Linked DNA regions of Homo sapiens. The protein of the gene in region 2 binds, or shares a complex with, the protein of the main gene of each other region. Each region holds a gene or a part of one and is shown on either strand. Other genes may lie near its edges. A codon is read from its position in the direction of its gene.

Region 1 (7,637 bases), on a different chromosome or scaffold from region 2:
GTTTCTGTAGGTGGAGCCAATAATATCTGCTGACAGGTTGGAGTGGGTGTGAAGGAGAGAGGTGAAGGACCACCCCGGAGTGTTTGGCCTCAGTCACTGGAAGGACAGAGCTGCCACTGACCTAGGTGGGGAAGGTAGTGAGGGAGCAGGTTCTGGAGGAAGGTCAGAAGCTCAGTTTAGGATATGTAAAGCTTAAAATGCCTCTAAGGGCCAGGTGCATTGGCTCACACCTGCAATCCCAGCACTTTGGGAGGCTGAGGCGGGTGGATCACGAGGTCAAGGGATTGGGACCATCCTGGCCAACATGGTGAAACCCCGTCTCTACTAAAAAATACAAAAATTAGCTGGGCATGGTTGCGCATGCCTGTAGTCCCAGCTACTCGGGAGGCTGAGGCAGGAGAACTGCTTGAACCTCAGAGGTGGAGGATGCAGTGAGCCGAGATCGCGCCACTGCACTCCAGCCTGGTGACAGAGCAAGACTCCGTCTCAAAAAAAGAAAAGAAAAAGAAAAAGGAAAAAAAAAGCCTCTGAGATCTTCCATCCTTTCCCATGGAAATGGTGAATATGATGCAGGATGTAGGAGCCTGGAGTTCGCAGGAGGTGTCTGGGCTGGAGATAGAAATTTGGGGGTTAGGGTTAGGGCCAGGTGCAGTGGCTCACGCCTGTAATCCTAGCACTTTGGGAGGCTGAGGTGGGAGGATCACTTGAGCTCAGAGTTCAAGACCAGCCTGGGCAACACAGTAAGACCTCATCTCTACAAATAATTAAAAAAGAAAAAAGATAAAGGAAATTTGGATGTTTGCCGGGCGTGGTAGCTTGTGCCTGTAGCAGTAGCTATTCAGGAGGTTGAGGCAGGAGGAGGATTCCTTGAGGCCGGGAGTTACAGGCTGCAGTGAGCTACATCACATCACTGCATTCCAGTCTGGGTGACAGAACCCCTGTCTCTAAGAACAACACAAAAAACTGGGCGTTGGCCGGGTGCTGTGGCTCATGCCTGTAATCCCAGCACTTTGGGAGGCCAAGGCGGGTGGATCACAAGGTCAGGAGATCGAGAACATCCTGGTTAACACGGTGAAACCCCGTCTCTACTAAAAATACAAAAAATTAGCCAGCGTGGTGGCAGGTGCCTGTAGTCCCAGCTACTCTGGAGGCTGAGGCAGGAGAATGGCGTGAACCCGGGAGGCGGAGCTTGCAGCGAGCAGAGATCGCGCCACTGCACTCCAGCCTGGGCGACAGAGTGAGACTCCATCTCGAAAGCAAAACAAAACAAAAAACTGGGCGTTGATAGCCTAGAGACAGGATTTAAGCTGTGCATGTAGGGGAGGCACCCCATGGCATGAGTGGTACAGAGAGGAGGATAGAGACCTAACACCTGGGGCTGCCGGGAATAAGGGGTTGGGGGCCAGAACTAGATGACAATATGGTTACGATTGGCAGTGAGTGCCATGAGAAAGTACAAGTCATTTTGAAAGCATATAACTGGAAGCCTCACCTAGTCTCAGGTTGGGTGGAGACAGGGAGGTCTTTCTGGAAGAGATGACTCCTGAGGTGACACCTGCAGCCTGAGTAGCTACACAATCAGGCCAGAAAAAAAAAGGCAGCAGGGGAGTTCCTGGCCGAGGGCATGAGGGCTGGCAGCAAGTGAGCCTCGGGAGAGGGCAGAGAGCTGGAGCAGTCAGTCTGGCAGGGAGGGGTGTGGTGAGAAGGGAATCTGGATTAGTCATCACCAAAAGATCTGTGCCAAGCCCGGGTTCAGATCTGGTTCTGCCACCCTCCGTGACCCTGCCTTTCAGAATCTCCATTCTCTCTCCTGCCCTGCAGACAAGGCTTGTGTAGCAGTTACCTTGGCCTGGCCCCAGCAAGGCCTCAGGAAACATCAGCTGCAACTAGTTTTGTCTGTTGTGATGTTGTTATTTGACCTATTATATTAATTATATTATTAACGCATAAGGGTAGTGGTTAAGGATACAGGCTAGGGAGAGTGACTGCTTGGGTTTAACCTCAGAGTCGGTTTACTTATCTGTAAAATGGGGATAATAAATAGCATCTATGTCACAGGGCTGTTAGGAGAACAAGGGAACTGATGGACGTCAAGCACTTGGAGGAGTGGTTGATGGTTACTTGTTTTTGTATCTTTTTTTTTTTTTTGAGACAGTTTCGCTCTTGTTGCCCAAGCTAGAGTGCAATGGCACGATCTCGAGTCACTGCAACCTCTGCCTCCCGGGTTCAAGCGATTCTCCTGCCTCAGCCTCCCGAGTAGCTGGGATTACAGGCACACGCCACCACGCCTGGCTGATTTTTTGTATTTTTAGTAGAAACAGGATTTCACCATGTTAGTCAGGGTGGTCCCAAACTCCTGACCTCAGTGATCTGCCCACCTCGGCCTCCCAAAGTGCTGGGATTACAGGCGTGAGCCACCACACCTGGCCTGTTTTTGTACTATTTAAGGAAGACTAAGAGTCTACCAGCTGAGGAATACAGCTGGCCTCGAGGCTGAGGGAACAGCATGAGCACAGACACAGAGCTAATGGGGGCATTTACAAAGCATTTATCACCAATTTATTTATTTATTTATTGGAGACGGAGTTTCACTCTTGTTGCCCAGGCTGGAGTGCAATGGTGCAATCTTGGCTCACTGAAACCTCTGCCTACTGGGTTCAAGCGATTCTCCTGTCTCAGCCTCCCGAGTAGCTGGGATTACAGGTATGCACCACCACATCCGGCTAATTTTGTATTTTTTAGTAGAGACAGGGTTTCTCCATGTTAGTCAGACTGGTCTCGAACTCCCGACCTCAGGTGATCTGCCCGCCTCAGCATCCCAAAGTCCTGGGGTTATTGGCATGAGCCACTGTGCCCAGTATTTATTTGAGACAGAGTCTCGCTCTGTCACCCAGATTGTAGTGCAGTGGCATGATCTCGGCTCACTGCAACCCCCGCCTCCTGGGCTCTGGTGATCCCCCCACCTCAGTCTCTAGAGTAGCTGGGACTAGGCGCATGCCACCACATTCAGCTAATTTCTGTATTATTTGTAGAGACAAGGTCTCACTATATTGCCCAGGCTGGAGTCAAACTCCTGGGCTCAAGAGATCCTCCTGCCTCAGCCTCCCAAAATGCAGGGAATACAGGCATGAACCACTTCACCCAGCCACCACTTAAGTTTTTTTTTTAATAATCAGTATTGCTGCAGATATCATTTAATTTTGATAGGGGGCCTAGTGGTATGGAGCAACCCATGTTCCCATTTTACAGATGAGAAAATCGCTGCTCAGGAATATCAAGCCACTCTTTTGGGGTTGTGCAGTTATTACAGGGCACAGCCAGGATTCAACTCAAGCCTAGCCAGCCTGCAGGGTAGGGGATAAGAGCCAGCCAGCCTGCCTGGGGGCCAGATTTAGCTCCCCCCGATGAGTCCTGAAAAAGTACTGGACTCCCGTGGCTCATGCCTGTAATCCTAGCACTTTGGCAGGCCGAGGCAGGTGGATCACCTAAGATCAGGAGTTTGAGACCAGCCTGGCCAACATGGTGAAACCCCGTCTCTACTAAAAATACAAAAATTAGCTGGGTGTGGTGGTGCATGCCTGTAATCCCAGCTACTCGGGAGGCTGAGGCAGGAGAATCGCTTGAACCTGGGAGGCAGAGACTGCAGTGAGCTGAGATGGCGCCACTGCACCCCAGCCTGGGCAACAGAGCAAGACGCTGTCTCAAAACAAAAAAAAAAAAAAAGAAAAGAAAAGAAAAGAAACCAGGCTATGTAAAAATATTATTGTAAAAAATTAAATTAAATCAAAAAAAGGCCGGTAGCCCATACCTGTAATCCCAGTACCTCACAGTACTTTGGGAGGCTGAGGCAGGAGGACGGCTTGAGGCCCGGAGTTCAAGAGCAGCCTGGGCAACATAGCGAGACCTCCGTCTCTATTATGTAAAAACAATAATATTTTTTAAGTAAATAAAGAAACCAGGCCGTGGCCAAAGGAATCTTCCTGTGTCTGGGGCCTTCTTTAGAGGCTAGCATACTGAGGACACTCTTTGGGCCAGTCCAGGAAGGAATGATTCTGGTGGCCCCTGACTGGGGCGGGGGCGTGGTAAGGTTCGCCTGGGAGGCGGCGCAGGCGCTGCCTGCGGTTTGACTGCCATCCGGGCTGCTGCAGGCACTGGGAAAGGCAATCCAGCCTCAATCCTCGCCACAGACACGGGCGACTGTCCCCCAGCGTGTGAGTCAAACCATACTCCAGGCCTCCAGGAGGTGTTTGTCGCGACAACACCTGCAGAGGGCCCGTGCGGAGTCCCTTAGTGAGCGGACCGAAAACCGCCACCCTGGAAGGATATTGGCATGCCCTAGGGTGAAAATTCACACTACGACACTCGGGGGGTGGGTCCCCTCCGAGTTCTCGTCCGCGGGTGCCTCCACCCAGACCTGAGGGGTGTCGGGAAGACCCCCGCCTACCGAGTCAGGGCGGGATTAAGACCTCCGGCGCTGGAAACGCGTAGGGCGGGGCCCAGACCTGGATCCAGCTAGCCGGGCGGTGTGGGGTGCGCATGCGCAATGTCCGCTTCGGCTCTAGGACCGCGCGGGCGACAGCAGGGCCGCGGTGCAGTGTCCGACCCGAGAGTTGCGGCCTGAGTCACCGGCCCCGCCCTCCGGAGCCGGACGCTGCGGGAGGCCCGGGAGCGGCAGTGGAACCGACTCCCAGAACTCCGGACGTGTGCGGCGGTAAGCGCCCGGCCCGTACCCCCTCCGCACCCCGCAACTCCGACTTTGGCGGCCCCCAGACCCGGCGAAACCGTGAAGTCTCGGCCTCAGGAGCCCCCCAGATCCATGGTCTCAGATTCGAACCCTCAGACCTGTTCGATCTCCTTTTATGCCGTCCCGGGGACCCTTCTCCACCCTCTGTCTCATGATCCAAAATACAGGCCCATAGGTTTCAGAGATACCCTGTGAATTCTTCCTTGGGGTGTCCTGAACCGCGATCGTAGATCTGTGCCCCCAGTTCCAGCGGGGAACCCCATTGTCCGGGAACCCAGAGCTCACAGCCACGATCTTAGACCCGAGCCCACAGAGCCAGAGGTGACACTGGAATCCTGCCGCTGGGAATACCTAAATTCTCAAGCCCACATTTGGGATTTCCTAAACCCCGCCCTGGGGCCCTTTAGGCCGTGGATGTTTGCTCCGCGCCCATGACCTGCCAAGGACCTCTACATTCAGGCTGGGCTCTGGATCTCACATTCTAGCGCCCAGACATGTCGGGAACGCCTTACGCCAACTTGGGGTCCCCACCAAGAGAACCCCCACCAGATCTGCACCCTCCCCTTCACGCGTGCACCCAGTCCAGGCTCCCTCAAGCCCCACGGGTGCCTTTTAGACCTGAGGAGGTTGCAAACCTGATCCCCCATACCTGCCCCACCCATCCGCGGACAACCCGCCCTCGCAAACTCAGACCCCCACCCGGAGGCTTCAGATTCCTCCCAGGTCCAGCTGCCGGAAATGCGTGTTTGAAGGGAGGGTGTGGGCTCAGGGGCGAAGCACCCACTGGTCCCCTTTTTTCCCCCCAGCAGTGAGTCGCAGCCATGTTCCTGGTTAACTCGTTCTTGAAGGGCGGCGGCGGCGGCGGCGGGGGAGGCGGGGGCCTGGGTGGGGGCCTGGGAAATGTGCTTGGAGGCCTGATCAGCGGGGCCGGGGGCGGCGGCGGCGGCGGCGGCGGCGGCGGCGGTGGTGGAGGCGGCGGTGGCGGTGGAACGGCCATGCGCATCCTAGGCGGAGTCATCAGCGCCATCAGGTAAGGCGGAGACTATCAGAGGGGCGGGGCCTGGGAATGGGAGGAGCCTCAGTGAGGCGTGGTCTGGGAGGGGCGTGGTCTAAAAATAGAATAGGATTAACCTGGAGGCTAACCTGGGTACATGAATTAGGCCGGGGAGGCCTGGTTTGAGAGTTCTGCTGTAAGGGGGTGGACCCCAGTGAGGCGGATATCAGTCATTGGGGGCGGTGCTTGATATGGGAGTAGTCTGATTGTGTGGGACCAGGACAATGTGGTCCTGAGGGGACTGATGTGGAGTTTTGGCGGGTGGGGCTTATGGGTCTGGGCTCAGCCTGCATTGGCTAACCTGGAGATGAACGTTAAAGGTGCGGAGCCAATGCGTCTGAGTGACATTTTACGGAAGGGGCTTGACTTATGAGTGTGGTCAGAGGTTTTAGGTGGGTTAATGAGGAGGTGAGCCCAGGAGGAAGCAAGACCTAATGGGGTAGGGTAAATGGCCCAGAATGGGCTGGGCTTGCTGGGAACTGGCTGGATTAATGGAGAAAAATGCCCTGGTAGGGATAGGGCAGGTTGGCTTAATTAGCCACGGCCACTTAGCAGTGATCCCTTGAAGGGGCGGGGACCAATGGCTGGGGTAGGATGTTGGGAAGACGGGCATTTAGGAAGCGGGCCATGGAGTAGGGTCTTGGGCAGATGGCACCTGAGGAGGATAAGGCCTTGGGAAGCTGGGGCAGAGCCTCTATGAAGTGAGCCCTCCAAGGGGCGGGGTCTTTTGATTCTACGTGGGATTTTTTAGGTTTAGGGTGGCCAAGATGACTGAAATCTGCCACTGGGTAGGTGTGCCTGGCAGGAGGGGAGCCTCCCAGGGGACCGGTCTCTGGGTTTCCTCGAGGGTGGGGTTGGCCTGAGGAAGGGAGAAGAGGGGCACGACCAGGGCAGTGTGGATTGGGACAGATGAGGACAAGAACAAATGAAAGGCACAGCAACCAAGTAAGGAAGATAACGGCTGGGGTCTGGAGCGTTGGGGCTGATGGTTCTGTAGTGCTGCCCGTTGGAGGCCCCGCCCCTGGCACTAACCCCTCCCCCTTATCTCTTCGCAGCGAGGCGGCTGCGCAGTACAACCCGGAGCCCCCGGTAAGCCCCCTCTGCAACCAGACCCCCTTCTCCTGCCAAGGCCTCTTCGAGGTCCCATCCCTGTTCCTGTAGAGAAGCCCCACCTTCCTCCCCTTCTTGTGAAATTCCTCTGCCAGTTCCTCCCATGCCGTGTCTGCAGCTTCGCCATGGGTCTTAGCCATGCCCCACATACGTGCACCCCATTCACTACCACCCCTCATTCTTTTCCTCATCAAGCTGCCCAGCCCACTCTGACTTCCCCACCCAGGGTACCTGGGTTTGGGGAGCCGTCCTGGCCGGGTTCCCCTCCCCCTGCTCTGAGCTCTCCTCCCTTTGCAGCCCCCACGCACACATTACTCCAACATTGAGGCCAACGAGAGTGAGGAGGTCCGGCAGTTCCGGAGACTCTTTGCCCAGCTGGCTGGAGATGTAAGTAACCTGGGGTCCCTGGCCCCGTCCTAACCGTTCCATCCCTTCCCTTGTGGCTGCCCTTGCACACACACCCTTGACCATGACAATCCCAGTGTTCCCATTCTCCATGACATTCTCAGACCCCTTTCAGTCACCCCTGACCTGCCCCTAACTTCCGCCCGCAGGACATGGAGGTCAGCGCCACAGAACTCATGAACATTCTCAATAAGGTTGTGACACGACGTAAGTGACCGGGGTTAAGGAATAGGGTAGATTCAGAGGCAGAGGGGTCAGAGAGGATTTGACCTCTGGCCTCTGACTTTCAACCTGTTACCCACAGACCCTGATCTGAAGACTGAT
Region 2 (5,003 bases):
GTCCATTCCCTTGTCCCCTGATCCTTCAGCTACCCTTCCCTTGCCCACCTCCAATCTTGAGTCAGTCCAAACATCTCCCACATCTTTCCTGCCACCTGTGCAGCTGGACAGAGAAATCACCGATGCGAGGAGGTTGGGACTCCTGCACTCTCATGGCCACCAGCCTCCCCTTTGCCCTCAAAATCCACTCAGCAAGCAAGAGAACTTCAACTCATTTGAGCCGAGTTTGGGAAATCCATTGTCTCACCTTGTTCAGGAAATATTAGGATGGCATTTGCCTATCATCTCAAGTCATCTTGAGGAAATGATTCATCAAGAACCACAAGCACCAGACCAGTGACTTCATCTGCATGTTTTCTCAGCTCCCTTGCTTGTACCTACCCCAGGAGGAGCTGGCCAAGGTCGAGCAGGGAACTTCCTGAGAGGCACATACGTCTCTGTGCTGCCTAACAGCAGATCAGCAAGCAGTAGAAATTAGAGCTTCCCTTATGTTATGGTCAGATTATCAAAGTTTCTGAATTGGATTTTAAAAAATTTTATAGTTCCACATTTTAATTATAGGCAAGGTGTCTTTTCCTTTGAATACATGAATTTACAGAGGCAGCATACCTTGTTAAAGTAGAAACAAGCTATAATTGTGTGCTCATAAACCGTCCTGTGGGGCTGCCCTCCAGGAAGGAAAACATGGCATGGTGTGATTGCATGGGGTAACCCTTTATTTTTATTTAACAGTACATTTGGAAGAAGATAAGGCAACAAGGCAAAATTTCTATAATGTTGCTAGCATTTTCCCAAGGTAAAGCCAGGAAACAAACTTGTGTCCTTTCTATAAGAACTTCTAAGTGATGTCCCCTCTAACTCCATGGACAGACACTAGTGGTGGTGAAGTTCATAAAGTTTTGAGGTGGCAAACAGCTTATTTTGTCCTTTATCATAATTGGTTTACAAATTGGATGCCTGGTTTTGGCATACTGGTTCAGTTGATCAAGCGCAGGATCCCTTTGGTCTTTGTAAGACCAGATGTATAAGGCCGAATAGGGTCAAGAACTTGATTGTAAGGAGAACGATTTACTATTACCAATCAATATTCTACAAAACCTGTCTCTTGTTTAACCCAAGCGACAGAGGTGAGTCTTCTCTCCTGGACTCTCCAGATGCCTTGACAAGATTACTTCATGATATACCATGTTTCCCAGTTGGCTCATGGGAAATGGTAATCTTGGACTGTTGTTTGGTAGAATCAACAGCTGCATTTTAAACTTGAAGTTGCTTTAAATATTCCCTGCCAAGGGCCTCGTGTCCTTTGAGAGCGACTCAATGTTTTTGCTCAGCTGTTAAATACCTCCCTGCATTTTTTTTTCCTGATTTAATATTGCTATGAACAGGAAAGTGTGTAAAAGTAAAAAGTGTATACTATTTACAGATTTAAAGCTTTCTTTGACCTTGTCAAGGGTTAAGCGACTCATTTGCATTTAGTATAATGATATGCAAATCTTTTACTTTGATGTGTGAAACTTCTGCTATCTCAAATTGACAGTATCATTATTTTCAGCTATGATCATCCGTTTAAGTAAATGTTCCCATAATTTTGAGGTCCAGATACAAAGTGTATTTCTATGGAAGCTTAGTCCTTGGCTGATTTTCCATCATGAGAAGTCTTCAGGCAGATTAGTTATAACTTCAAAGTACTGAGAAACAGAGCCACTGTGAGGAAGGAAAAAAAAAAGTCAGCTCAGTGACCACTTTTAAAATTAAAGGCTATTTAAGTACCTGTAGATTGTTCCAAAAAACTTGTACTGGAAAAGCTGATTGAGGGCTACAATATCAGTGCACTAACTCATATTTTTCTTACCTGATTTCTAGAGTCTAGCTTTTAACAGGTCAGTAGTCTGTGTGATTTGCATTAAGTGGCCATGAATCATATTACAGGGTTGATTGCACACATGAAAAGTGAAATTCACACAACAGAAATTAGCATTTTCACATCTCTGCCTCAGAGTATCACATCAGAAGTTAGTTTGGGATGTGGATATCCCTGCAACCAATGGTGTTCAGCATTGGTTCTAAGTTGTAGTGATACGGAAACTTTAAATCAGATTGATTCAACTGGTCTGGGATACAGACAGGACACCAGCACTTTGGCAAAGCTCCCCATGTGATGGAATCTGCAGCCAAGGTTGAAATCCCTGCAGACTGAACGGAGAGCTTCTGAACATGGCTCATCCTTGCAAAGACTACGAGAAGCGAGGATCTCCAGGAACCTGCAAAAGGTAAGGCTTAGGAGTGGCAGGAAAAGCCAGTGGGTAAGAAGATGCTTCTCGGAGGAGATGCGGAGGGAGTGGACTGAGCAGGCAGGCCAGGTGGACCCTGGAGTGGGGGTGGGTGGCTGGGGTAGAATAGGATATCCAGCAAGAATGACAGGCTAGGATTTCCAGAACTTAACATGTGGCATGTTTCGTGTCACAGTTGTGTTGACTCTACTATTTATTTCATTTTAAATTTTTTGAGACAGGGCCTTGCTCTGTCACCCAAGATGGAATGTAGTGGGGAGATCATGGCTCACTGCGGCCTTGACTTCTGGGCTCAGGTGTTCCTCCCACCTTAGCCTCCTGGGTAGCTGGGTCTACAGGCACGCACCACCATGCCTGGCTCATTTTTTTATTTTTTATTTATTTTTTTCTGAGACAGGGTTTTGCTCTTGTTGCCTAGGCTGGAGTGCAGTGGCACCATCTCAGTTCACTGCAACCTCTACCTCCTAGGTTCATGTGATTCTCCTGCCTCAGCCTCCAGAGTAACGTATTTACAGGCACCTGCCACCACGCCCAGCTAATTTTTTTTTTAGATGCAGTTTTGCTCTTGTTGCCCAGGCTGGATGGAGTACAATGGTGCAATCTCAGCTCGCCGCAACCTCCGCCTCCCGGGTTCAAGCAATCCTTTCGCTTCAGCCTCCCGAGTAGCTGGGATTAACAGGCATGTGTCACCACGCCTGGCTAATTTTGTATTTTTAGTAGAGATGGGGTTTCTCCATGTTACTCAGGCTGGTCTCGAACTCCCAACCTCAGGTGATTCGCCCGCCTTGGCCTCCCAAAGTGCTAGGATTATAGATGTGAGCCACCGCGCCCAGCCCTAATTTTTGTATTTTCAGTAGAGACGCGGTTTCACCATGTTGGCCAGGCTGGTCTTGAGCTCCTGACCTCAGGTGATCCACCTGCCTTGGCCTCCCAAAGTGATGGGATTACAGGCATGAACCACTGCGGCCAGCCTAATTTTTTATTTTTTTAGAGATGGGGTTGACTCTACATTGCAATCTAGGGGTAGAGATATTTCCTAGGATATGTAAAGTTTTAAGCAAGTTAGTGTTATTTGTAACCAGATAGACTATATTTTCACTTTGCTAATACAATGCATAATAGCAGAATGAGACAGTTATTTAGTTGCTGCCTTCCTCCAGAGTTCAAAATCCATGGAAAAGAGCTGCCAGTGCCTTAGACCTGCCCTCCTCACCACTTCACTCCTCTGTTACACGGACAGGACTGACAACTGCCATTCTCACCCAGTGTCAGCCACTTCGCCCGGCCCTCTGTGGCCTTCCCTGAGTATAGAGGAAATGCTGACTGGAGCCAGGTGATAATGGAAGTATACCCCACCTGGCTTCTTTCTTTCAGTGAGAGAACTTCCTGTCATTGGGATGACACGAGAACATTTTACGCTTTGCTTTTTGTGAAATTAGCATACCCACTTAATTCAGATTGATGATCATTTCAGAGATGTGTATTGCTAGGGTTCCAGACACATGAGTGCAATAACAATAATAAATGGCAAACGTATTTACTAGTATTGGTTTTATCTTAAACGGGGAGGGAGTAGAGAAAACTAATTTGCTTAAAGTATTTTAAGTAGATCCACTCTAAGAATGATGGATCTTCCCAAAACCCAACTTGAATTTCAGCTGAAGGATTTCTTTATATAAACATGTTCTCCCTTGCATGCTAATCAGGAGTTCATTTTTCTAAGCATGATCCTGCAGCCACTCCTTAGTTTAACCTTGAGCTACACTCAAGTCAAAGCTCATGAGAAGAGGGAGCCAGGCGTGCATTTTGGACTTGAGAATAGGTGGTTGGAAAACAACTGCAAGTAAAAGTGCATTGTGGGATCTTACAACCGGTTACAGGCCTGGCCCCGACAGACCAAGAGCTCTTTAAAGCAAAACTTGAAAAAGCAGATCACTCAAGTAACAGCCCTTTCCGCCCCATGCCTCCCCCATCCCCTTAGAAGCAAGGCGGGGCCTGCTGACTCACAGAGATAAGGTCGAGCTCTATTGTTCCAGTATTCTCGGGATCCAGCTGCTTAAATATCTCTGTGGAGGGAGAAAAAGAGGGTGTCACAAGTGAGTGAGCTGAAACAGATCACATTATCCTCTTTTCAGTTCAGCAACTGACTTCACTGACCACCATACATGCTTTCTTCCTCACCCTCAAATTAGTAAAGAGGGAATTTCATTCTCAACTCCTGGAAGACATGTCTCTAGTTTAGATGATTTCACCGAGGTGAAAGGCAGGCCACTTTAATACCAAGAGAACTGAAATGAGTCATTCCCCAAATATCCACTTACTGAATAGCGTTTCCAGCCGAACCAAACACCGAACAAAATTATCAAAATCGATGATGAGCTGGTCATCTGCAAACCGAGCAACGATGACTTGGTGGAGTTGACAGGGCATCTTGAAACCTGAAGTTACATGAACAAACAAACTCATTGCTAAGCATTAGATTGTTCCATTTAGCTGCGCTCACAGGCTATGAAACTAATGTGGTGATTTAAATGAGGTATAATTGCTTTTGTCCCTTGGCTGCTCTTCTGTGAGACTGGTTTGATTTTGCAAAGCCAGTACCTTCTGCTGTTTCTTTTGTTTTTGAACTGTCCACCTTCACCCTGCCTGTGTCCTTTGCTGACACATAAGTGTTTTCTTGCCTGTTTCTGTTCTCATGGTCACAGTTGCTTC

Evidence for each region. Proteins that work in one complex are often made in the same cells at the same time.
Region 1: the proteins of CAPN2 (region 2) and CAPNS1 are in contact, whole or in part, in a crystal structure (PDB 1KFU), measured with the Homo sapiens proteins. Residues at the interface, in NP_001739.3 of Homo sapiens: Ala2, Gly3, Ile4, Ala5, Lys7, Leu8, Ala9, Arg12, Glu13, Glu16, Phe60, Arg366, Arg416, Arg417, Arg418, Arg420, Asp494, Ile516, Phe551, Glu575, Lys578, Val581, Asp582, Asp585, Gly588, Ser589, Gly590, Gln641 (codon at 4,712), Leu642 (codon at 4,709), Gln644 (codon at 4,703); in NP_001003962.1 of Homo sapiens: Thr85, His86, Ser88, Asp111, Asp112, Met113, Glu114, Ser116, Thr118, Asp142, Arg145, Ser146, Ala149, Val150, Met151, Asp152, Ser153, Asp154, Thr155, Thr156, Gly157, Gly160, Phe161, Glu163, Asn206, His208, Leu209, Met212, Ile213, Arg215.

Annotation. Positions count from the first base shown.
Region 1 is NC_000019.10:36,135,447-36,143,083, forward strand, and holds the start of CAPNS1 (calpain small subunit 1), read left to right. Parts: upstream 1-4,619; 5' UTR 4,620-4,711; exon of another isoform or gene 4,712-4,819; intron 4,820-5,543; exon of another isoform or gene 5,544-5,550; 5' UTR 5,551-5,565; coding exon 5,566-5,774; exon of another isoform or gene 5,775-6,118; intron 6,119-6,179; exon of another isoform or gene 6,180-6,232; coding exon of another isoform or gene 6,233-6,237; intron 6,238-6,853; coding exon 6,854-6,887; intron 6,888-7,205; coding exon 7,206-7,295; intron 7,296-7,462; coding exon 7,463-7,520; intron 7,521-7,617; coding exon 7,618-7,637. UniProt on the Homo sapiens protein: Regulatory subunit of the calcium-regulated non-lysosomal thiol-protease which catalyzes limited proteolysis of substrates involved in cytoskeletal remodeling and signal transduction. Essential for embryonic development.
Region 2 is NC_000001.11:223,771,535-223,776,537, reverse strand, and holds the end of CAPN2 (calpain-2 catalytic subunit), read right to left. Parts: intron 4,730-5,003; coding exon 4,613-4,729; intron 4,358-4,612; coding exon 4,299-4,357; intron 3,828-4,298; exon of another isoform or gene 3,452-3,827; intron 2,271-3,451; exon of another isoform or gene 1,705-2,270; coding exon 1,681-1,704; 3' UTR 520-1,680; downstream 1-519. UniProt on the Homo sapiens protein: Calcium-regulated non-lysosomal thiol-protease which catalyzes limited proteolysis of substrates involved in cytoskeletal remodeling and signal transduction. Proteolytically cleaves MYOC at 'Arg-226'.